Homo sapiens: one gene and its partners. The protein of the gene in region 6 purifies or fractionates together with the protein of the main gene of each other region. This does not show direct contact. Each region holds a gene or a part of one and is shown on either strand. Other genes may lie near its edges.

Region 1 (3,500 bases), on a different chromosome or scaffold from region 6:
AAAGAAGGAACTTGTTGGGGATGTGGGGGGGAGTGTCTGCCATTAGTCATTTCTTCCACAGAATAGCTGTTTTTACTATTCCCTGCCTTTGTCATCTTGTGTATTTCATTCATTTTGAAGTGCAGCCACAATTTAGTGCTCCCATTATTAGTTCTATAACTTGTAAGATTAGACATGTATTTTTCTACCATTTAGAAAGATTAAGATAATCTACACCTCTGTTGGGTTAGTGTGTGCTAGTGGGTTAGGCATTCATTTTTTTCTTTCCTACTCCAAATTGCCAACTTTCCCTTTGGTTATTTTTGTGTTTCCAGGAGTGCCATTGCCAATCTCGTGGGCTCTGCAGAAAGATCGTGTAACTGAAAATTTCAGCAAATAAATAAATAAATAAATAAATAAAATTCCCTTGTAGACAGAACTGTCTGTACACTCCATTTTTGTAAAGTTGGAAGTGTGAACATTATATGAATATATGATGGAGTTTTTTTTCTTTAAGCCATAATTGCATGTTCTTTTAGACCCAATATGGTATATAAAATGGTCACTGAATTTGGAATCAGAAAATCCTGGTTGAAGTCTTAATCTTTTAACTTCTTATCATTCAATCATGGTTAACAATGGTATTAATAATATTCACAAAGTTAGATATTTTGTCATTGAGTTCGTTGCTATATTGCTTGGTCGATTAGTTGATATTGAGATCGCAAGAGCATCATCACCAGTAAGTGATACATTTTCGATTGTAACCTAAGGTCGTTGTTATTTTGTAATGCCATGCTGTTTTCCTTCTTGTACTACCCATGAAATGTTTTTTTATGTTCTAACGCAATATATAATATTTTTATGTTCTTCACTTGTTATCAATTGATGATTTAATGTTGAATCCTGTTTGCTAGTTTATGATTATTCATTAAAGGCCATCTTTAAAAGGGAGAGGTGTTTAGCACATATTCAATTGAAAACTAAATGGAAAGCAAATTCTGAAAGGATTTATGTTCAAGAATTCAATGTTAAATCTAATTTTTAAAAAATTTATCATATTGAGAAATTTTCTAGAGCATCAGAGACCTTCCTTGGAAACAAGTGACCCCAGTCTTTCTAATGCAGGTTGAGTCTCTATCCACAAAGTGGCTTTTCTAGGTACTCTAGATTCCTGGAGCATCTTGAAAATAGAGTATCAAGACTCAGGGAGACCGAGCAGCCACCAGCAGGATCGTGTAAGGATGGCACTCTCATTTCTAGGAGAAGAGGCTGTATTGATGGTGACATGACCAGGCTGGGCTGCCACCTGCTGCCCACCAGGGCTCCAGGCCTCAGCATGCGATGCCTCTGAATGGCATTACCTTCCGGTCCCAGATACTCATCACTTTAGGTAAACTGAGGCAGAATAACATGCGTGACAGGATTTCCGAATGGAATATCGCTCAGTGTGCCTAATAGTCATTTAAGGTGATCTCATACAGCTATGGAGAGAAAACCCGTTTAATGCCAACCTTAGACACCAGCTGCGTGCGTGGTGATTATATCTTTAGTCCCCCATTTTGCTCCCTTTTTTGAAGAACTATTGAAGAAGAACGGAAGGAAATCGATTTTGAGGAAATTAAATTTTCTTTTGAAACAGCATGATGGTTTTTAAAACAAAGAGAAAGTGGGGAACAGGATGCTGATTACGAACCGTGCCGGGTTCTGCCTGCCGACTCAGGCTGTGCTTCTCCCTGCTCCGTCTTTGCTGCCTGCAATCGTACATATTTTAAAGAGCAGATGCGCGCTGCTTATGGATTTGTGTAAATGTGCGTGTGCTGTCTGCAGAATGCGGGGCACACCGTGCTCTGTTGACATTATCCATTATGCTCTGTTGCTCAGCTTCAGACAGCAAAGTCCTGACATGTGCAGCCGTGTGGAGGATGCCGAAGGAATTGGAATCAGGCAGCCACGAGTCCCCTGATGATTCATCCAGCACTGCACAGACCCTGGAGCTGCTCTGTCACCTTGACAACACAGCCCATGGCAACATGGCCTGGTAGGATTTTGCATATTTCATGCGCCCAGAACGAGCCTGCAGGTTGGCCAGGTGCAGGAGCTTGTGCAGATTCCTTTGCAGGAGCCACCGTCCACACCTCGGAAACGCTCCTTTCTTTTAAAAAGCTGCGAGAATTTGATTTTTAATTTTAGTCCCTGTGTTTTCTAGATTAGCCGCATTGACAGAAATGTAGCCAGCGCGCCTGCATCCCCACTTTCTCCTCTTCATCTAAGAGGAGTGTTGCCCGTGGGGACCTGCCAGAGGGTAAAGGGTCAGGCACTGCACTGCCCTCGAGCGCTGTGTGGCTTTTCAGCTTGGTCAGCATGCACTTATTCACACTCACATGGCAATTATTTACCACTTCAGGTTGAGGCTTACAATCCCTTCCTCCCGTGGACAAAGCATGAATGCGTGGTGTGCCTGTGGGGCTGCGTGCCCAAGCCCGCCCGTGTCCGGCATGTGGTGTGTCATTCACGTGGCTCCCTGGCCAGTCGCTGCTTCATGAGCTTGGAGGCCTGGCTGTGTGCACCCACTGGTCATTCCCAGGGACCTCTCCACGGCAGTCACAGCTGCTCTCTGAAGGCCCTGAGGCCTTGGTAAAAATTAAGAAGCCGTATTTTCTAAAGGAGATTGCGGGGGCATACTGTTGTTATGAGTGTTTACAATAACGATAGTGATTGTTTTACTTAATGCATTAACACATACACATGTGCGTGTGTGTCTGCAAGAGACAAATCGTTTGTACAGTGACTTCTGTCTCGTCAGTTCTACCAATTAAATAAATTTAATACAACAAATACTTATTAAATACCTGCTACAGAAACCCTGCCAGGCTCCAGGGACACCAAGGTGACAAGTTAGAGGGCCCGGCCTCCGAGAGTCATGATCTCCACGGGGAGACCCAGGGTGTACACAACTAACTGTGGCTGGGCCAGCCGTGGCGTACCCCGAAATCATTACGAACTGTACGCTGTGGCCCCGGAAGGAGCAGCCATTAATTGTTATTAGAGGAATTGAAGAGGGATTCGCTTACGAGGTGGAGTTTGGAACGGGGACTGAGGACCGACTCAGGTTTCCCTCGTCAGGTATGGAGGAGAGCAGTGCTGAGGGTCAGGCAGTCTGTGGCTCCGGATGCTCTCTGTGTATCAGTTTGTGGTGGAATTATTTTTATACTTGCTGTGCTTCTACCACGTCGGTGGATATTTCTTCTTACGGAGATGCTCTGAGTATTAAAATCACAGCCAGTCTTGCACAGTAAGGGGAGGCAGATGAAGAGTCCCAAAGTCCCCAGGAGTGATTGCCACTGCTGTCACTCCCCGCCCGAATGCAGGATCTCTGTGCAAACCACACAGCACTGTTAGGAGTTCCACATTTCAAATGATTGCCACATCCCCAGCAAATAGACATTTGTGCGCATGTGTGTGATGCACATGTGCACACATTTGTGCTTGTGTCTCTGTGCACACGTATGTGTGCACAT
Region 2 (3,500 bases), on a different chromosome or scaffold from region 6:
ACTGTGTTAGCCAGGGTGGTCTCGATCTCCTGACTTCGTGATCCACTCGCCTCGGCCTCCCAAAGTGCTGGGATTACAGGCGTGAGCCACCGCGCCCAGCCGAAGGTGCCCCTTTTATGTCAGAATTAATTCCCAGGCTCCCCTACTTCTGTTAAGTCTAGAATGGCAGGATGTACAGTTCCTGCTTCTGAGGCCAGAGCCCCTGCCTCACCCCCAACTGCAGCACTGTGGCCACAATTTGCAGGAGGCTCTAGAACTGATGGGAGTGGGTTTTTGGGGTTCCCACAGGCCCAGTTTGGCACTCTTTCTGACTATTTTGATGCCCTGTACAAGAGGACAGGGGTGGAGCCAGGGGCCCGGCCTCCAGGGTTTCCTGTGCTGAGCGGGGATTTCTTCTCCTATGCGGACCGGGAGGATCATTACTGGACAGGCTATTACACTTCCCGGCCCTTCTACAAGAGCTTAGACCGAGTCCTGGAAGCCCACCTGCGGTGAGACCCTGTCCCCGCTTCCAGGCTGGAGGGGGAGAGTCAGCCTTTGGGGTTTAAGGAGGGGCTGGATTGGCTCAGAAGGGAATAGATAGGCCCAGAGGCCAGGGCAGGTAGAGGAGGGGTGGGAAGGAAGGAGGCTGCACTGGCAGAGTGTGGGTGGGCCCTGGCTAGTGGTGCAGGCTGGCAGCTAACTTCTCTCTCTGGGCAGGGGGGCAGAGGTTCTGTACAGCCTGGCTGCAGCTCACGCTCGCCGCTCTGGTCTGGCTGGCCGGTACCCACTGTCTGATTTCACCCTCCTGACGGAAGCTCGGCGCACATTGGGGCTCTTCCAGCATCACGATGCCATCACTGGCACGGCCAAGGAGGCTGTGGTGGTGGACTATGGGGTCAGGTGGGAGCCTTCTCTTTTCCCTTGTAAGCTCCCCTGCTCACTGTCCCAAAGAAAGGACATTGGGTGGTCAGGGGGTAGGCCGGCCTAGGGCTTGTCCTGCTGACAAGGCAGACAGCTTCCCTATGGTCATCTTCTCTCCTTCCCTCTCCTGCGCCACCCACAGGCTTCTGCGCTCCCTTGTCAACCTGAAGCAGGTCATCATTCATGCAGCCCACTATCTGGTGCTGGGGGACAAGGAGACCTACCACTTTGACCCTGAGGCGCCCTTCCTCCAAGTGGTGAGCCCCTCCTGGGTCTGCATGGGGACCCTCTGGTGTGTGCAGGTCCCATCCCAAGAGCTGCTGGATGGGGGTGCCGCTTCTCTTTTTCCTTCCCCATCCGGATGAGTTCTGTGCCCAGTGCAGCCGCTGGTCCACACCTGGGACAGGTGGGGTGGGAGGAGGCTGAGCCCATGATGGTTCTTCCCTTCCGGCTCACTGAATTCCAGGATGACACTCGCTTAAGTCACGACGCCCTCCCAGAGCGCACGGTGATCCAGCTGGATTCCTCGCCCAGGTAACCTGGACTACGCCATGTGCAGAGAGGCAGAGCCATTCCCTGGCTCTCAGGCCCCTCTGCCCCAGCATGTGCTGAACCAGTGCAGGGCGCTTGCCCTGGTCGGAAGCAGCAGCCTCCTGGGTCAGCCCACCTTCTACGCACAGGTTTGTGGTCCTATTCAACCCACTGGAACAGGAGCGATTCAGCATGGTGTCCCTGCTGGTCAACTCTCCCCGCGTGCGTGTCCTTTCGGAGGAGGGTCAGCCCCTGGCCGTGCAGATCAGCGCACACTGGAGCTCTGCCACCGAGGCGGTCCCTGACGTCTACCAGGTGAGGTGTGGGCTTGTCAGGTGGGCCTGGCCCTCTGCCCGTCGTGGGCCCCTCCCCGCCCGGCGACGCCAGCCTCCCACCCTCCTGCTTGTGGCCCTGCTACTCTCCAGGCTGAGGACAAGTGTCCTGGGGAGGGGGTTGTCCAGAAGACAGGCACTCTTGGGATTTGAGCGTGTCCTTGAAAAGAAGGGGAAGGTTGGTATGGTAATAGTAATGGTAAAAATAGCAGTTATAATGCCCCATCATTCAGTCATTCAATGTTTATCGAAAGCTTAATGTGTTGTTACCGCTTCATACTTTTTCAAATATCACTTGAGAATCATAAAGTCTGATGAGGAAGAAAGGGCAAATCAGATCACCTCCACTTTGGAGGAGGGGCAGAGGCCCAGCGGGTGCAGGGGCTTGCTCAAGCCCTCTGTTAGTAAGCGGATGCCTCAGCACCCCTGTGGCGAAAGCCGTGCCCCCACTTCCTCACCCCTCCTGTGCCCACAGGTGTCTGTGCCTGTCCGCCTGCCAGCCCTGGGCCTGGGCGTGCTGCAGCTACAGCTGGGCCTGGATGGGCACCGCACGCTGCCCTCCTCTGTGCGCATCTACCTGCACGGCCGGCAGCTGTCCGTCAGCAGGCACGAAGCGTTTCCTCTCCGTGTCATTGACTCTGGCACCAGCGACTTCGCCCTCAGCAACCGCTACATGCAGGTCTGGTTCTCAGGCCTTACTGGGCTCCTCAAGGTAAAAGGCCAGGGTGGTGGGGAAGGGCCAGGGGCCAGAGTAGGGCGTGTGTGGTGGTGGCACTGTGCAGAGCGGCCTCCCGGCCCTGTGAGCATTCTGCCACCTGACCCACAGTGGACCGGGGCCTGGGCCATCTCAGCTCCAGCCTGACAGCATGGGGAAGCAGGGCACGGCTCCTTGGGGAAGCTATTCCGTGTCCTCCCAGGAGGCAGGCCTGACATGCTGGTGTGGGGCCAGGGGTCAGGGCTGTGTTTTTTGGCAGAGCATCCGAAGGGTGGATGAGGAGCACGAGCAGCAGGTGGACATGCAGGTCCTTGTCTATGGCACCCGTACGTCCAAAGACAAGAGTGGAGCCTACCTCTTCCTGCCCGATGGCGAGGCCAAGGTATCCTAAAGATGCCTTGAACAACCTGGCAGGGAGGGCAGGAGGGGGCACAGGCCTTCCCACAGGTTTATTGCTGCCTGCCAGGGGCCTTGTCTTTCCTGTTCAGCCCAGGGGTGTCTGGGAATAGGTGCTCTCTTGCCCAGCCCTGGGCTGGCACCTTCCTGCTTTGCCCTCTGTGCTGTAGTTTCAACAGCAATCTGCTCTTTCTCTAGCCCTACGTCCCCAAGGAGCCCCCCGTGCTGCGTGTCACTGAAGGCCCTTTCTTCTCAGAGGTGGTTGCGTACTATGAGCACATTCACCAGGCGGTCCGGCTTTACAATCTGCCAGGTGAGCCCTGCATATGAGGAAGGGTCTGGAAGGAGGTGTGGGCTCCACAACTGTGGCGTATTCTTCCTTCTGCTGCTTCTCTGTTCATACCTCTGTTCCGTATCATTTGAGACAGGGATGCTCCATTCTCTTGGAGAAAAAGTCATCCAGAAATGCCCTGGGGATTTCTTGGGAGGTTGGACAGAGCCTCTCCCCAGCTCGGCTCTGATCCCCCAGCCCAGCCTCTTAGCTGTGCTTCAGCCTCACACCTGTCCATGCCCCCACTTTGTTCCTGTACCCAGGGGTGGAGGGGCTGTCTCTGGACATATCA
Region 3 (3,500 bases), on a different chromosome or scaffold from region 6:
AGCAAGTCCACAATCTTGCCCTTCGTTTGCTTTGCCACATAATCATTGATCTGCTTCATGGCCCCTGCAGAGTCCCTAAAGTTGGTAGGGAAAGTGTCTGCCAGGTACAGCGTCTTCATGGCACTTACGAAGGTGTCCTGCAGGTCTACCACCAGGTCGGTGAAAAGGGCATTGCCGAGGCTCAGCTGGAAGCCATCTCTGGGCTGGTTGAGTTCCTGAAGGAGCTGCTGAAAGCCTCTGTGCAGCTCCTTCTCTGAGCTTTTCTGGAGGTTGAGGCCCAGGCCCTCCAGGATCTGCATCTTTGTGCTGGACCCAGCCCCCAGGGAGAGCATGGCCAGGCTCATGGAGATGCTCACAGGGGAGAAGAAGATGCTCTGGCTGGGGGCAGCGGAAGCCAAGGCCCTGTAGAGGTCAAAGGTAAAGTCCCTTCTGCTGCTGGGGGCCACCGTGGCACCTACATGGAGGTCCTCGACTCTCTTCTTCATCTCCCGGGGGTGGTGGCGGTGAAGGGAGGCCCCCTGAGGGCTGAGAAGCACCAGGCACAAGAGGAGGAAGAGCTGCATGGTGGCTGTTCTTTGTTCTGAAAGGGAAAGAAGGTGTCCTCAGAGAGGGGTGGAGCTGGTCCAGGTGCTGACTTTCCAGAGATGTCCCCACCCAACACTCAATGGGTATGTTTGGTCCATTCAGCTTCAAAGAGAAGGGATGGCACCCGCAAGACTGGGCATGAGGGTTTACACAGGGTGGCAGTGGCTCGAGGACAAGATTTAGGGATGACGGGGAGAGGAAGGAGGGAGAGGAGGTGCAGACCCAAGGCAGGGGTCTGGCTGCCAGGGCAGGAATCCTGTCTACCCATCCACATCAAGGGACACATTTTGGAGGATGGGATATGGAGGGAGAGGGTTCCCTCTGCTCTGCTCTGTCTCATCAGCATCTCGAGGTTACCAGGGAACTAAGCTGCTTCCATGTGAGCTTCTGGCCTTCACTCTGGTGTCCTGGTTTGGCACATGGCAGGGCGCTGTGGTCCTTCTATGAACTCAGACCAGCTACATGCCTGGGACCATCAGCACTGCTGGCCTTGCCCTGTTCATTCAGCAAACGCTGAGTGAGTGTCCACCCTGGGGTAGGCAGAATACCAGTATGCAAACTGTCCCCTTCTCCTTCCCCCAGGGGCTGCTCCATGCCACCCTTGTCCCACAGAGAGACATCTTCCCCTCCTAAAGGAATTCTGCCTGAACCTCTTCATGTGGACATCCCCACCGTCCTCCTGTTCTGGCTGAATTGTGCCCCCAAAATGCATATGCTGAAGTCCTTACCTTCAATACCCCAGAATGTGACTATATCTGGAGATAGGGCTTTTAAAGAGGGGACTGAGTTAGAATGAGGTCACTAGAGTGGGCCCCAACCCAATATGACTACGTCCTTACACAAAAATTAAAAAGAGGAGATCAGGATAGAGACATGCACAGAGGGAAGACCAGGTGAAGACAGGGAGAAGGCAGCCACCTGTGAGCCAAGGAGAGGGGCCTTGGAAGGAACAAATCCTGCTGGTGCCTTAATCTCAGACTTCCAGCTTCCAGAGTTGTAAAGAAAGAAATTTCTGTTGTTGAAGCCCCCTAGCCCCTGGGACTTTGTGACAGCAGCCCATGCAGGCAAAGACATCTTTTCATCTTCCAGATGAGGAGGCACTCATCTTTGTCTCTAGCTCTTCTCAGGGAGGCCTTTGTGGGGTCTCCCATCACTCCTGACGTGGCCTTGGCCTTCAGTCCTCCTCTTCCTCCCTCCACTTCACCCAAGAGCCGTTCCTGTGCCCATGCCTCCCCATCTGGCTACGGGTAGAAGTCTTGCCTCCTCCCTCTGCAGTAGGAAACAGCTCAGGCTCTGAAGCCACTGCCTGGGTTCAAATCTCAGCCCTGCTGTGTCCTTGTAGTGTGATTTTGGGCAAGTCAGTTACACCTTGAGCCACTGCTCCATAACTGTAAGATAGTGATAATAACAGCACCTACACCATGGGGTGCTTGGGGGCACGTGCTATGGAAGTGTGAGCAGTAGGCATGGCAGTTTCTGGCAAAAGCCCCATCTGAGGCCTCCATATTCTCAACTGTACCATAGGGTACATGCTTTACACACACACACACACACACACACACACACACACACACACGTGTGAGCCTGACAGCACCCAGGCTGGCTAATTACCAGGTGCAGAGGGCCTGCCTGGCTTCTGATGTGAGCTTTGCCCTGTGTGTCGCCTTGGAGGGAATCCCTTTCTGCTGGGCTCTCTCCATGGGCACAATGTCATCAGTGACCCCAGATCCCCACCAGGCAGGGGCAGCCTGTCACAGCATCCCGTGACCCAATTAAAACCAAACTCCAAAGGGCCCCAAACAGGTGGGTGGGAAATCCCTTGCAGAGTGGCCGTGGGGCTCAGCAGTGGAGAGAGAATGGTCTCAGGAATTGGGCAGGCTTGGACTGCAGGCCTGTCTTTAAGTGAAGTTGAATAGCTCCAGCAGGTCACCCTTGCCAGCCCAGCCTCCAAATTGTGTCCTGAGCTCCTTCCGAGAAGGAGCCTCATGTAGAAGTTTCTGCCTGCAGAATCGAACCTGGCACCAAACCCAGCAGCCACAGCAGTTGGGCGCATTGCCCGCACCCTCTTTCAGGCACTGTGCCAACTCCTTCAGCCCTGCACCACCCAAAAAGGTACATCTTGCTGCTAGCTCTATTTTACAGATGGGTAATCCGAGGTTCAGAGAGATGGAGTCGCTTGCTAACACTGGCAAAGCTTGGACTCAGACTCGGTTATCACTCTGACTCTGCAGAGTCCTGCCTCCTCTGCAGAGTCCTGCCTCCTCTTTTCCTGGCTGCATCTTCCTGATTTTGAAATCCCTGACTTAGTAGCCACCAACAATAGCCCTAATCTGCAGATAATGAGTGAGCAGAGTCTGGGCTTCCCCCCACTGACACTCCCTACCTGTTCCCACCATGGCACTTGCCTGGAGAGCTTTGAAGGACATAGGTGGGTGCTTTAATCTCCGGCTTCTCTAAATGAGTCTATTTTACAGCACAATATGGTCCCTCCTGCCAAGGGTTGGAACCAGCCATGTATGGAGATGCTTCTAAAGAAACAATGTGGCTCAACCCCCCACAGGGTCACACTGAGCTGATAATTTCGAGAACAGCTTCAGAAGCAGGGGAGTTTCCTTATTGGATACAGCCCAGGGGCAGCTGACCAGAGAGTCTCAGTGAGGCCCTGGCCTCCATTCTCCCATCTATTCAGCTACTAGGTCACCCTGGGCAAGCCTCACCCCCTCTGGGCCTCAGTTTCTTCATCTGCAGTCTGCCATGTGTTGTGGACACCCCCTCAAGACCCCGCCCCCTGCCAAGCACTAGAGATCCGATGGGGAGGAGCTGCTTCTCCGGGTGTGCACTGAGTCTCCCCCAGGATCTGTTTGGAGAGGGCCCCAGGTTCACTTAGGCTCTCCTGGGCTACATGTTTGAGACCC
Region 4 (3,500 bases), on a different chromosome or scaffold from region 6:
TGAAGCTTACCATTTCAGATCTAGACAGAGATGTGACATGCGCTAGGTTGTTGATAAAACTGGTATCTTTCCAAAAGAGGCATGCAAGCATGTACTAAAAGACTACAAAATTAGTGTTAAATACAGATTAGAAAAATTAGTTTCATGGCATTCAGTTTGAAGGAAATGACTCAAATTTAGATCTCTACTTATTGTGAAGTAAACTTGAGTTAAATATAGTATGAGAAAGAGTAATGGACTAATACAACGTACAGTAGTCCCCACTGGGATATGTCCCAAGAATCCCATTAGATGCCTGAAACCATGGATAGTACCAAACCCCATACATACAATGCTTTTTCCTATACATGCATATCTGTGATAAAGTTTAATTTATAAAATAGTCATAGTAACAGATTAAAAATAATAAAATAGAACAATTACAACAACATATCATAATAAAAGTTATATGAATGCAATCTGTCTCTCATTCTCAAAATACCTTAATATTTTCAGACTGCAGTTGACCACAGGTAACTAAAACGGTAGAAAGTGAAACCACAGGTAAAGGGGAACTACTGTATGTAAATATTAAAGGTGAGACAATAAAGATAAAATGAAAACATTCTCAGCATCAGAAAAAATTTTCTAGATACTTGGTTTTCTTCTCTAAAGAGGATTATGACTAAAAGAAGAATTGAATTTGGTTAGTTAATCTTATCCTATGAACAAGATTTGTATAGATTTGTATATTTTGGAATATATAATGCTTGCCATATGGCATCTATTTTCCTTCTCAGGAAATGGGCTGTGAATCCTGACTCCTCACTTTTGTCAGTGGTTAACCTTAGACTTCAGGATGCTATGAAGTCTATATTTATACTATATCAGAGTAGTTGTCTGTCTGGTTCTGATGACTACTTAAACTTTTTTTTCTTCATTATGTAAGTAATACATGCTCATTGTAGAGCACATACTTGGATGATAAAACCAGAAATAAATATGATTCCCAGTATCACAGTCCATTTTTAACATTCTTATTTATTTCCTTATGATTAACTTTCTATGTATATGTACCTTTTCCTATATTTACTATCATATATACTATAGGTTTATTTTCTACTTTTATATATAATACTGTATCTCATGCATTTCAGATATAATTTTTAAACTCTTTGGAAATGCCATTTTAAATAACTGGGCCATATTTTATTTAGCTAAATTCTTACCAGTATACCACTTACGACAGTTCCAATTTTTTGCTTAGAAACAATGCAATTATGGACATCCCTGTTCACAAATTTTTTTCCTGATATCTAATTATTCCCTTAGGTTTGAAGGAATTATAGAATAAATGCATATAGACATCTTCAGACCTCTTTTTTTTTTTTTGAGATGGAGTTTGGCTCTGTCCCCCAGGCTGGAGTATAGTGGCACGTTCTTGGCTCATTGCAACCTCTGCCTCACATGTTCAAGCAATTCTCCTGCCTCAGCCTCCTAAGTAACTGGGATTATAGGTGCACTCCACTACGTTCAGCTAATTTTGTATTTTTAGTAGAGACAGGGTTTCACCATGTTGGCCACGTCGGTCTCAAACTCCTGACCTCAAGTGATCCACCCTCCTTGGCCTCCCAAAGTGCTGGGATTACAGGTGTGAGCCACCATGCCTGGCCCAGACCTCTTGATATATATCACAAAGCAGCTCTTTGGAAAGTTGCAGGGGTTCTCACTTGAACAGCAGGATATGTGTCTGCCCTGAAAAACTAGTACAAAAGCTGTCCGGACCAGCTAGCCAGCTTGCTTCTGCTTTGTGACACAGGGAGAATTAAATTCATTTCATGTCACTCTATGATTTTTTTTAAATACATTGTTAAAAACTTTATAAATAAATTTAAAAACGGGAATGAAAAGAACTCCCAGTTTGCTGTGGGAGACTTAATATTCATGAAGTACAACCCATATATAACCCACATCTAAAATGCATTCAATACTTTAATAATCTATATTTCACATGTTCAACTCATCCAAACACTTACGTTAATGGATCTTTCTCTCTGCATTGTTAAAGTAAATTGGTGAGTTTCAGTTTGGGAAGATGAGAACATTCTGAAGATGGATAGTGGTGATGGTTCCACAATAACATGAATGTATTTAATGCCACTGAACTGTGTACTTAAAAATGGTTCAAATGAAAAATTTTATGTATATTTTATCACAATTAAAACAACCCACCATATTTGTGAACAGTATTAATAGACCTCAATGTTCTTTTTTTATTGTTAGCATAGTTGCCCATTTAGACATTACGGCCTTAAACTGGCCATTTCAATTGATACTCAAGACATAATACAGTTGCTAAAGGAATACATACCCCCTATTAACTTCCAGGGGAAAAAAAAAAGTTATAGTGACTCTAACTTCTGTCTCCTAATCCAGAGAACAACTCTAGTGCTATAGTAAGAAAAATACAGAAATACTATTACCTTTTCCTTCTTTTCCATAGCCCAGAGCAGGAGGAATGATGAGCTTTCTCTTCTCTCCTACACACATTCCTTTCAAGCCCTGGTCCCAACCTTTGAGAGCCTCCAGGATGCCCAGGGTAAACCAAATGGGCTGACCATTGTTATGTTTGTGACTATGATAGAAATAAAACACATTAGAACTCCTTATTAACTCTAAAAAATTTTCTTTAGTGCATTTTCCCACCAGTAAGTGGTTAAGTTTATTAGTTTAAAAATTTATAAATACAGCAATTCTGTATTTGCACACATACACACACACCTCCAAGTCAAGTTTATAGGAATTCAATTCACTGCCCATCTTTCTTGATGCAAATTTCACATACTTGACTGGGCTTAAGAAAGACAGAGGAAATAATAAAAACAACAACCATTTGAACATTTGTTGTATACCAGGAATTATTCTAAATTTTATTTTATTTTTTGCCTCTTAACCCTTACAATAAGTCTATAATATAAGTACCATTACTACCCCATTGCACAGATGAGGAAACACAGGTTAAGTTCCAGTCTTTAAACCTAACTCCAAAGTTCAAGGTCTTAATCACAAAGTTATGTTGTCCCAGGAAGGCCACTAGGTTGCAGAACAAGGAGAAAATAATGGAAAAATGGCTGAGTTTGGGAAGGAGATTGAAAGGCTAAGGAGAATTTACTGCCAACATATGTGGGTCCATATGCACACAGATATGAAGAGTGAGAAGCACAGTGTCTTATATCCTGCCTACAAACTTGCCTTAGCTATGGCCTGCTGATGGCTCTGACGGGTAGAAAAGGCTGCTTTTCATCCCTAAATCCCCACTCAGACCCTAGCCCAGTTTCCTCCTCAGGGGTCTACAGTGGGGCTATATAGGAAAGTCTGGAAGAGTAGCCCCTCAAGGACTGGTGTGTTAGTCCATTTTCATACTGCTATGAAGAAATATTCAAGACTGGGTAACTTATAAAGAAAAGGAGGTTTAATGGACTCGCGGTTCCACATGGCTGGGGAGGTCTCACAATCATGGC
Region 5 (3,500 bases), on a different chromosome or scaffold from region 6:
TTGTTTTAGTCAGGGCTTAAGTTTTAGCAGACAAGGAACTTATAAATAAAGGCAGTGTTAGGGCTTCCTGTTGGTCCCTTCCCACTGTTTCCCTGAGGTTTAGTCAATTAAATTTTTAAAAAATTTTTAAACATTCTCAGTCATGAAACTCAAAGGCTCTGCTTTAGTATAGTTCAATTTAAATCTTTTTCAAACAATTTACTTCATTGTTTACAATTAACAGAGATAACTTGTATTCAAATATATATAATAATTAATTAATCAATGGTTTGGTGTTCAGTCATCTCTCTTTTGACATGGCATATATCACTGTGAGCAGGTGTTGACTATGAACAAGGAGAAAAAGCAGAATTTCAAATCATGACTCTCTCTGGGACCAAATAACAAGGAAATCAAAACTTAAATTCAATTGTAAAAAGTAAAAGTTCAGAATAAAAAGTAAGATGAAACTCAACTCAAAGGACAAAAGGGATACAACTTGGGGTCTAGCTTATATCAAGAGAAATCTCATGTTAGCTCTCCCTTCCCTCAATTTATTGCTGCTGTAAGGATATAATCACACTGCTATTATAAACATTCTTTCCCACCTTCCTCCACTACCCAAACCATTCCTAGTCACTCTTTTAAATATTAGCAGTGATTGTTTTGCAAAGCAATGCAGTATACAAATTTGGATTTATAGGGGAATTCTGAATATCACATCCTCTCCTCTAGAATCCTTCTTACATTTAAAAGATAGATACTCTCAAGCACCCCCTCACTGAGCACTGCCTCTACTGATTTAACTTCCTTATAAGCACACCCATATGTATGCAGGTATGGAACAGTGGCCAAATTCTTTCTGTGAACCTTGATATAATAATCATGTTTTACTCATTAAAAAATCAGTTCAATATTTTAAGCCCCTCAAGACAAAAATATATTAAAATGTACAATGAATATGTAATGAGAACATTTCATCATATTTTGGTTAAAAAAATCCTTAACCATCTTAAAAAAGCTACAACACATTCAAATTCAAAAGTAATTGTTTAAAATCAATTAATGCTATAAGATTAAGTATTAGACAAAAGTATTCTCATTACCTAAATAAGTCGATTCATATCTTATTAGAGTTCTTACCTATGGTAATTCTTGAAATAATTGACACTTTGTTTTCTAATAGATTCCTGTAAAACTTCAGACTTGCTACCACAAAATTCTTCTCCAACTTGCATCAACCTAGTTGGATAAAAAGGTTTCAGTAAATTTCAGCAGCAGCCTTATAGAGAAAAAGAAGTGTGGTTTCTCTTTCTTCAAAGATAAAAAAAATCACTAAAATTTGGACATGTGAAAAAATTCTAAAGATCACAAATCCATAAAGGTTTACAAACACCCAAAGGGCAGAAATATTTAAATACACTCACAAACTTAGCAGCAAAAATTATCTTCATTTCCATAAAGAAGTTATAGATGATAACTCACTAGCTCATGATTTATCATGGTTGAATGACTCAAACTAAAGAATAAGACAAGATCTTAAATACTACCTGCTGATTATATCCAAAACAAAGATGAAATCATCATATTTGAATATAGACAAATCAGTTCCAAGCAAGTAGGTTTTTACTTTTAGCTGAACATCCTGTAAGGCAAAGAAAAAGAAAATCAAGCAAACCCAAAATATAGAAAATAAGTTATCAGAAGCATTTACTCTATAGTTCCAGATTAAAATGAGACAGGAATATATTCCTAATTTGTTAACGAATATCTATTTAGGCCAATAGCCAACATCCTTAAGGGATGTAATAGAGACAATCCCATTTCCTATACCAGGAATGCCATCAGGTTGCCAAACTGAATGGAAAGTAGCTACATAAAGTGCTAAGTCAGTATTTCAAAGTACACTGAATTACCAGAAATTCTATCATAGATTGTAAAATTTTACCAAAGTACACTTAAGGCCTATTGGGAGACTAAGTCAGAAACAAATCATATCTGATCCTGGGTGTATATTCAATAACTATAAGATTTTCCTTTCTTTTTATGCATAATACTCAGAAAACAGTCAGCCTAAATCCACAATTAATGATAAATTAAATATTTAATTTTAATAAATGTTTAATATGGTTATGAGTTTAATATAGACAAATGAGAAAATATATGTCAAACCTCTTACAACCACAAAAATAAATTTTAAATACTAAAGCATAAAATCAAATAGCATATCGAATACAAAATTATCAAAAATTAGAAGAGCACTAAATTATAAATATTAACTGATTCATGAAGAAATTTATGTTTTCAAAATATATTTTCCTAAACAATTTTTTTCAAAACATATCCTATAAAAGATGGTCAAGCTGGGCATGGTGGCTGATGCCTGTAATCCCAGCACTTTGGGAGGCCAAGGCAGGAATATCACTTGGGCCCAGGAGTTCAAGACCAGTCTGGGCAACATAGCAAGACCCCATATCCACCAATAATAATTTAAGAAAATTAGGCATGGTGGTGCACATCTGTGGTCCCAGCTACTCAGGAGGCTGAGGCAGAAGGATCACCTGAGCCCAAGAGGTCGAGGCTGCACTGGGCCATGACTCTGCCACCACACTCCAGCCTGGGTGACAGAGTGAGACCCTGTCTCAATCAATCAATCAATCAATCAAAAGAAAGAAAGAAAAAAAAAGATGGTCAAAATAAAGATCAGCCTCATTAGAAAAATCAAAAATACATTTTAAAAGACCATAACATGGCCAAAGGGTCTATAGTCTTCCAAGGTTCAAAGAAGTCCAAAAAGAGTAAGTTATCTTCAAAGAAATTACACTGTGATCTAAGAAGTAACAAATTATCTGATTACAACAACTGAGTTACTAAATTGTAAAGAAAAACTTAATAAGATACTGCTATGGTCTGAATGTTCATGTCTACCCAAAATTCCGAAGCTGAAATTCTAACCTCCAAGGTGATAATATATTAGAAGGTGGGGCCTTTGTGAGATGATTAAATCGTGAAGGTAGAGCCCTCATTAATTAGATTAGTTCCCCTATAGAAGGGACCCCAGAGAGCTCCTTCATCCCTTCCACTATTTGAGGATACAGCAAGACAATGTCTATGAACCAGGAAGCAGGCCCTCCCTCCCAACAATGCTGGCACCCTGATCTCTGACTTCCAGCCTTTAGAATTCTAAGAAATAAACTTCTCTGTTTATAAACTATGCAGTCTAGAATATTTTGTTATAGGAGCCCAAATGGACTAAAACCAGATATATTCAGCCAATAAGCATGTAAGATTCCCTCAAGGTACAAAGATCATTGACTGAGAAAAAAAGAATTATTCATTCTAAACTATAATCTGACCTAAGTATGCTATCTACTTAGTTACTCCTTTTCTAAAATTAACAGAAAAAAAAATTAAGAAAACACAGATAAATGAAATAATAAACAGAACATCTCACTGAGAAAGCATACATTTCTCTATGATAGTGGAAATTTGCTAGGCCTCTAAAACAAAAGATGTACTCA
Region 6 (2,823 bases):
GCTCAGTAACCATTAGCTACATATTGTTAAACTTCCAGTCTTCTGCTCTAAATAAGTTGCACAGCTTCATCTCAGATTCCGAGTCCTTGCTCATGATGTTCCTTCTGCCTGGAATGCCCTTTCCAGTCTCCTCCGCCTACACATGCTTCAACATCCTAGTCAGGCCCTCCTTTCTCCACAAGGCCTTCTCTGTACTAATATGGCATTTACCACCGGTTCAGCTCATCCAAATTAAGTAACAATGTTAAATATTTTCTGTGTTTATGTATACTTCTCCAGGGAAGAAGCTGTTTCTTAACCTTTTGTGTTTTTCAGTGGGGAATACAGGGCTACACTGCAGATGTTCAGTAAATCCTGCTTGAAGAAAGGAAAGAAGGAATAAAAGACTGGATTCTGGGCAGATAAACAGGTCACTTGAAACTTTTCGGCAGTGGTTCTCAACTCTGATTTCTCAATATGCAGAGAGGTATTGCCAGGGTGATCACAAAATGCTTCATAAATTCTCAAAACAAGATTACTTTTAATTATACTTCTTCAGAAAAGTAGTTTCAGGCACTACCTGGAACCCCATTATGCTTTCACCTCCTTGACTACTGAGCTCAAGGGTCACAAAGGTGAGGGACATGAAGAGTCAACTTCTATATGTAAGGAAGTCTGGACTACTACAGAAATGCTGCTAGTATACCTCCAGCTTCTGAAAGTGCTGTGACAAAACCCCAGAAAGTTTGCACGACTGATGCTTTTAGTGGAGTGGTGAGGAAAGAAGTGATCGGAAGGCAGCAAAGTCAGTCAGAAGTGGCCAAAGAATAGAAAACATTTACTGAGCGCCTACTCCACATCCAGCACAATCCTTCTCAACCATCCTGTCACGGAGGTATCATTATCCCCAGATCTAGCTGGCTTCTAAGCCAAATCATCATCGCCTATTTTGTTGATGGTGAAAGGTGCTGCAATTGGGAGGTGTTGCATGGCCAAGTGAATATGCCCACCTGCTGCACCAAGATGGTGCGCATTGCCGCTTGAAGGCAAGTCATGGATTTTTTTTTTTTTTGAGAGTTAGGAGGGGCCTCAAAGGAATAAAGATAATAAAGGGAGGAAGTGAGGGTTGAGAGGTAAGCCTCAAGCCTAGAAAGTTACTTACAGGATGTAGTTTAAGGGAAACCAATGAGTTCTCCTTGTCCTGAAATATCTCCCTAGCTAACTTATTACAGTGCTAGGAATCATCACCATTATGATTTTATGGTTAAAGGTTAAAACTGTAAGATATATGTATTACTGCTGGGCACAGGGGCTCACACCTGTAATTCCAGCACTTTGTGGGGCAAAGGCGGGAGCCCAGGAGTTCAAGACCAGCCTGGGCAACGTAGCAAGACTCTGTCTCTACAGAAAATACAAACATTAGCCAGGCATAGCGGCATGCACCTGTAGTCCCAGCTACTTGAGAGGCTGAGGTGGGAGGATTGCTTGAGCCCAGGAGGTTGAAGCTACAGGGGACCAAGGTCACACCACTGCACTCCAGCGTGGGCAACAGAGCGAGATCCTGTCTCTTTAAAAAATACATGTATATATATATGCATTACCTGATTACCTGGGAAGGGCAGTAAAACCAAGGAGCCCATCAACATAGGACAACTAATTCATTTATCGGATTAGTCATCACCTGTGGTGACATGACAGGAAGGCACCAGATCTGATAAAAAGAGACAAGGGCAGGTTTAGAAAGTAGGAAAGGTCCACAGCTTGGGATGTGTTTCTGAGACCCGGAAAAACAAAGGTGGCAACAGAGCCTCAGTGTGGGTTGAGGGCAGCAGTGGGTGGAAGGACACCAAAGGTAAACTTGACCTGCTTCCAAATATTGCCTTTATCAAGCACTACCTGGAACCCTATTATGCTTTCACCTCCTTGACAATTGAACTCAAGGGTCATGAGGGTGAGGGACATGAGGCGGCAACTTTGATACATAAGGAAGTCTGGGCTACTACAGGTATACTAGTAGGGCATCTGCAGCTTCCAGGAACCACAGAGCTAAACTAGGCAGGAGTGATGTAAAAGTGCCATGGTTTGGAACGACTTGCCCAAGGAGAAGCAGGTGGACTCCTTGACAGCTCCTGATATGTGTGACTCAGCGCTGGCAGCTTAACAAGGCCCACCCATCATCTCTCCCTCCTGGGAGCGGGCTCCTTTGCGCAGGTCCAGTACACCCTTCCATGTCTGAGACCGCTTGCCTTCCGTTTCAGAGAACCATATGCATAGGCCTAGAATTCTCTTGAAGGCCACCAGAGGGCGGTGTATAGCAGGGACCCTGTGCGATGGGAGCGCACAGCGGCTACTGGCAAGGGCGAGCTCCGGGTGGTACCAACAACCCCCGACTATTTCCTCCTCCCCGCCTCACCTCCACCCAAGACACTTCCCTTCTGGAGCAGCCCAGCTTCCTCCAGAGCTTCCATTCCTAACTCAGGGGCACCTGCCTGCCTGGATTCCAGGTGTCTACTGCGTTGGAACCTAAAGGTTCCAAAAACACCCAGGCTAGGGAAGTAGAGCTGGTGATAATGGGAGAGGGAGGAGGAGGCGCTGAAGACCAAGCCAGTAGAAACAACAATCAGGGCCAGCGATCAGGAGGGGAGCTCGGGTTGTAATGCTGATATGCCCTTGTTTAGGGAATCTACTTCCCCCACATACACCCAGGCTGAATCCATTCTCTCTCTCTGAGCAGCCCTTCAGTAAGGAAATATTCCAGCCTCTTACTGTGCCCCCCTTCCTTTTTCAGGCCATGACTATGCGACGATTGCAAATTATTACCCAGGTTTCCCATGGATCATCAGT
Region 7 (3,500 bases), on a different chromosome or scaffold from region 6:
CACTGTTTCTCTCTTTTGGGTGTTTCCATTTTGCTCTAGCTGGAACATTCTCCTGGCCAGATCTAGTGGGGAAAAAGTTCAGGTCTTTGTTTTTTTCACCTACCCTGATTGGTTAACTATAATGCTTCAAGTTCCTTTTCCTTCATCTTTTTCCAAATGACCATGCAATGCTGGACTCATTTTATCCAGTTTCTTTTGCCCCTTGGTCTCTCTGCCTGTCTGAATTGCTGCTGAATATCTACAGCTCCTTATTCTTTTATCCTCTGCAGCCCTATTTCCTGATATTGGTAGAGGCACAGTCCATAATGAGAAACTCTAGAAGGGAGTCTATTTTGCCCAACATCTCACAACTTAACTAGCAGCAGGGTAAAAATGAAGCCTCATTTCTTGGCTATTACTTTCTTTTCTACACCAGTCTTCATTCAAATATGATAACAGCTTAATCTGAGATAAAACTGAAAGGTTCCAAGGAACTGTATCATATCCTATGAATCTTTTTCTTCTTTCTCTTTCTTGACTGGCTACACTGACCTGCTTAAAAATAAGTGGCCATGGTCTCTTTTGCATTCAGGTATACAACAAACAAGCTGATGAGTATCTGAAAATATATACATGTGTACATATAGGCTTAACCACATAGATATTGATAAACACTGCTTATGCCACCTGCATTGGTATTTTTCATGTAGAAAAATAAAATGTTTTTTTCTAGGCTCACATTCTACTTGACTGTGGTGAAGACAATGTCTGTAAACCCAAGCTGGAAGTTTCTGTAGATAGGTAAGTTTTGCTTGAAATAATAATGTAGTAAGAAATTTAAATGGAAGGGCACATTTTTCTATTCAAAGGACTAACATATTTTAACGAGAATTAGTTATCCTGGAGGGTAATGCCTGATTTTCTATAACACTAAAACTATCAATATTGAGCTTCTAAAGAAAATATCCACTGTGTTTTCACTAGTTGCCTAGGTTGAAAGAGTTATTACCATTCAACTTTGGGTAATATCACAAAATAATATTGTATCATTTTAAAGATACACTTCATCATAAACATTCTTTGAACTCAAGGAATATCCTTACCATTTTGTAAGGCATATGAATTATAAAGAATATTGTGAGAATTATGACACGTGATTAATTTAGCTTTTAGAAAAATATTGGGGAATTACAAAGTACATGTAATTCACTTCAGTAATAGATATGAATGATAGTGATATATTAGTGGCATCAATGTTTATTTTTATTGAGAGAAGCATTCGATTTGCACCCAGTGTGCTATTTTCTGTTTTCTATCAAGCTGTGAAGTAGTCTTAAAATACCTTGAGACACTGTTGAACATGTCAGTGCTGTGTATTTATCTCTTCTTTCTTTGAACAGTCATACTTTCCCCATGTAGTCTTTTTTTCTCAGTCTGGATTTGTATTGTTAACTTGTAGTGATCAAAAGAAGATCTATATTGGGGATGACAACCCTCTGACATTGATTGTTAAGGCTCAGAATCAAGGAGAAGGTGCCTACGAAGCTGAGCTCATCGTTTCCATTCCACTGCAGGCTGATTTCATCGGGGTTGTCCGAAACAATGAAGTAAGCAGGCTGCCTCTTTAAAAATTGAAATGCACTCACGGATCTTATTAACATTAATGAGCTGTTCCCCTATTTAGTGAAGCACAAGCTTAGCTATTCTACCTAAGGCTAAATTGATAGACAATGGAGTGCCTATCTTACATAATTCCTTTTAAGCCTAATACTTTGCATAATGCATTGATATGACATTTTTAGAATTGCAAGCTAAGTGCCTGGAAACAAGGTTAGATAGATAAAGTGTCTAAGCCTGTCCATCAAATTATTTGTCAGAGGCTGTATGGTTTTGTATGGTAGTCCTCTAGGGATCTTTCAGAAACACTTCTGCATTTCCATGTGGCAATTGTACCCAATTCTGGCTTTTTCCTTACCTCCTGGTTTGCTCAACTAGATTTATTTGCTTAGGACAAGAAACTGAAATATCCAACTGCGTGATACTTTATTTCCTTTCATATCCATTTTTTTTTTTTTTTTTGGTCTATCAAAGGCCTTAGCAAGACTTTCCTGTGCATTTAAGACAGAAAACCAAACTCGCCAGGTGGTATGTGACCTTGGAAACCCAATGAAGGCTGGAACTCAAGTAAGACAATTTAATTAAACGGATTTTTCTCCCTGGCAAATAGAAAAGCATATTGTTGTCTGGGCTCATAGTAATTTTTAAAAATAAACACTTCAAAACAATGTCCTTAAATTGGTTTCGATATAATAGTTAAATGATTAGCAGAGTTTTGCTTAGTTTTAACTAAGATACGAAAACAATTGGTTGTGCTCCTACACGGTTTGCAATCAGCTGCTCTTTATGCCTCCTTCACTTTAGTGAATGGATGAGAACGTGGTTTAAACTAAGGACTGAAATAATAATTTTTGCTATTTTACACTGATGCCTTAATGGATCCTGAAAAGCTACTCTGGCAACTACCAAGACTGTCAATCCTAGGTGAGCTAGATTCCATCACAGGCCCCACACAGAGGATCAAAGTGAAGGTCAGTTAAATCAGGCTCCCCTTCAGATGGTGGAGCAGGGTGCCCAGGAGCTTGAAAAGAAGCAGCCAATGGCTTGCTTTCCGAATCCTCTAAAAAGTAAACAAAATATACCTTGTAGAATTTCTAGTAGCAAGGACAAAATGGCAGCATATGCTGTGTGACTTTTTCAATAGAATTTATTTAATGACTTATTGATACTGGTACTTTGAAGATCTGTGGTAATACAGGTCTAAATATTCCATATTTCTTTAGTATGTTTTCTATTACAAGTCATTAGTATTTCTAGATGTATGGTATCTTAGGGATGAGAACTTGAACAAATTACCCTAAGTTCAGTTTTTCACGTGTATTCAATGTTTTATTAACAATGAGCATGCCTTTTATTTTCTCATATTCTCATTCTCTCTAACTTTCTGGTTATTATATAGTTTCTGCTTATTACAAGTAGCCAGCTCCAGGTTTTGTGGAGTGGGAGGCAGAACCCAGGAAGTACTGTTTTTATATGTCATTTGTGTGATCCCCAAGAAGCCTTCTTTTTTGTACCTGGTGGTTCAATTGTTTTATTTAAAATCTACCAATTTTCTGCCTGCAGGAATTAGGATATTTGGTGTTGGGAGTGTTATGAGAGGTGTGTGGAGAAATTCTGGTTGTGGCCCTACTCATGCCTTCTTTAGCCATGTTCCCTTACTCTAGTAAACCATCCATTTCTTCTTTCCTGGCCTATGAACACAGCACATACTTTGGTGGTTAGCTTCGTGTTATCAAATTATTGTACCCAGTTGCTAGACTTTCACTGGATCAACAAACATTTACTTTTGCACTTTTTAGAAAGATGGTTAGTATTATAAGGAGGTATAATTATGATTAATAATTGTTGTTAAATAGGCTCTCTTATGGATTGGTCCAGGTATATTAAGTAAAATAGGTTTGATA

Evidence for each region.
Region 1: the proteins of DHH (region 6) and EIPR1 purify together in Homo sapiens (affinity purification with mass spectrometry; 2 studies listed by BioGRID and IntAct, with this or other methods). This does not show direct contact.
Region 2: the proteins of DHH (region 6) and MAN2A2 purify together in Homo sapiens (affinity purification with mass spectrometry; one large-scale study listed by BioGRID and IntAct). This does not show direct contact.
Region 3: the proteins of DHH (region 6) and SERPINA5 purify together in Homo sapiens (affinity purification with mass spectrometry; one large-scale study listed by BioGRID and IntAct). This does not show direct contact.
Region 4: the proteins of DHH (region 6) and FKBP14 purify together in Homo sapiens (affinity purification with mass spectrometry; 2 studies listed by BioGRID and IntAct, with this or other methods). This does not show direct contact.
Region 5: the proteins of DHH (region 6) and VPS50 purify together in Homo sapiens (affinity purification with mass spectrometry; one large-scale study listed by BioGRID and IntAct). This does not show direct contact.
Region 7: the proteins of DHH (region 6) and ITGAV purify together in Homo sapiens (affinity purification with mass spectrometry; one large-scale study listed by BioGRID and IntAct). This does not show direct contact.

Annotation. Positions count from the first base shown.
Region 1 is NC_000002.12:3,255,819-3,259,318, reverse strand, and holds part of EIPR1 (EARP and GARP complex-interacting protein 1), read left to right. Parts: intron 1-1,863; coding exon 1,864-2,020; intron 2,021-3,500. UniProt on the Homo sapiens protein: Acts as a component of endosomal retrieval machinery that is involved in protein transport from early endosomes to either recycling endosomes or the trans-Golgi network.
Region 2 is NC_000015.10:90,909,802-90,913,301, forward strand, and holds part of MAN2A2 (alpha-mannosidase 2x), read left to right. Parts: intron 1-288; coding exon 289-491; intron 492-699; coding exon 700-882; intron 883-1,045; coding exon 1,046-1,160; intron 1,161-1,369; coding exon 1,370-1,437; intron 1,438-1,583; coding exon 1,584-1,749; intron 1,750-2,241; coding exon 2,242-2,478; intron 2,479-2,715; coding exon of another isoform or gene 2,716-2,740; coding exon 2,741-2,863; intron 2,864-3,075; coding exon 3,076-3,190; intron 3,191-3,471; coding exon 3,472-3,500.
Region 3 is NC_000014.9:94,584,426-94,587,925, reverse strand, and holds part of SERPINA5 (plasma serine protease inhibitor preproprotein), read right to left. Parts: intron 581-3,500; 5' UTR 564-580; coding exon 1-563. UniProt on the Homo sapiens protein: Heparin-dependent serine protease inhibitor acting in body fluids and secretions. Inactivates serine proteases by binding irreversibly to their serine activation site. Involved in the regulation of intravascular and extravascular proteolytic activities.
Region 4 is NC_000007.14:30,020,203-30,023,702, forward strand, and holds part of FKBP14 (peptidyl-prolyl cis-trans isomerase FKBP14 precursor), read right to left. Parts: intron 2,615-3,500; coding exon 2,463-2,614; intron 103-2,462; exon of another isoform or gene 11-102; intron 1-10. UniProt on the Homo sapiens protein: PPIase which accelerates the folding of proteins during protein synthesis. Has a preference for substrates containing 4-hydroxylproline modifications, including type III collagen. May also target type VI and type X collagens.
Region 5 is NC_000007.14:93,294,866-93,298,365, reverse strand, and holds part of VPS50 (syndetin), read right to left. Parts: intron 1,625-3,500; coding exon 1,530-1,624; intron 1,222-1,529; coding exon 1,123-1,221; intron 1-1,122.
Region 6 is NC_000012.12:49,086,156-49,088,978, forward strand, and holds the end of DHH (desert hedgehog protein preproprotein), read right to left. Parts: 3' UTR 501-2,823; downstream 1-500.
Region 7 is NC_000002.12:186,663,056-186,666,555, forward strand, and holds part of ITGAV (integrin alpha-V isoform 1 preproprotein), read left to right. Parts: intron 1-712; coding exon 713-780; intron 781-1,438; coding exon 1,439-1,586; intron 1,587-2,070; coding exon 2,071-2,163; intron 2,164-3,500.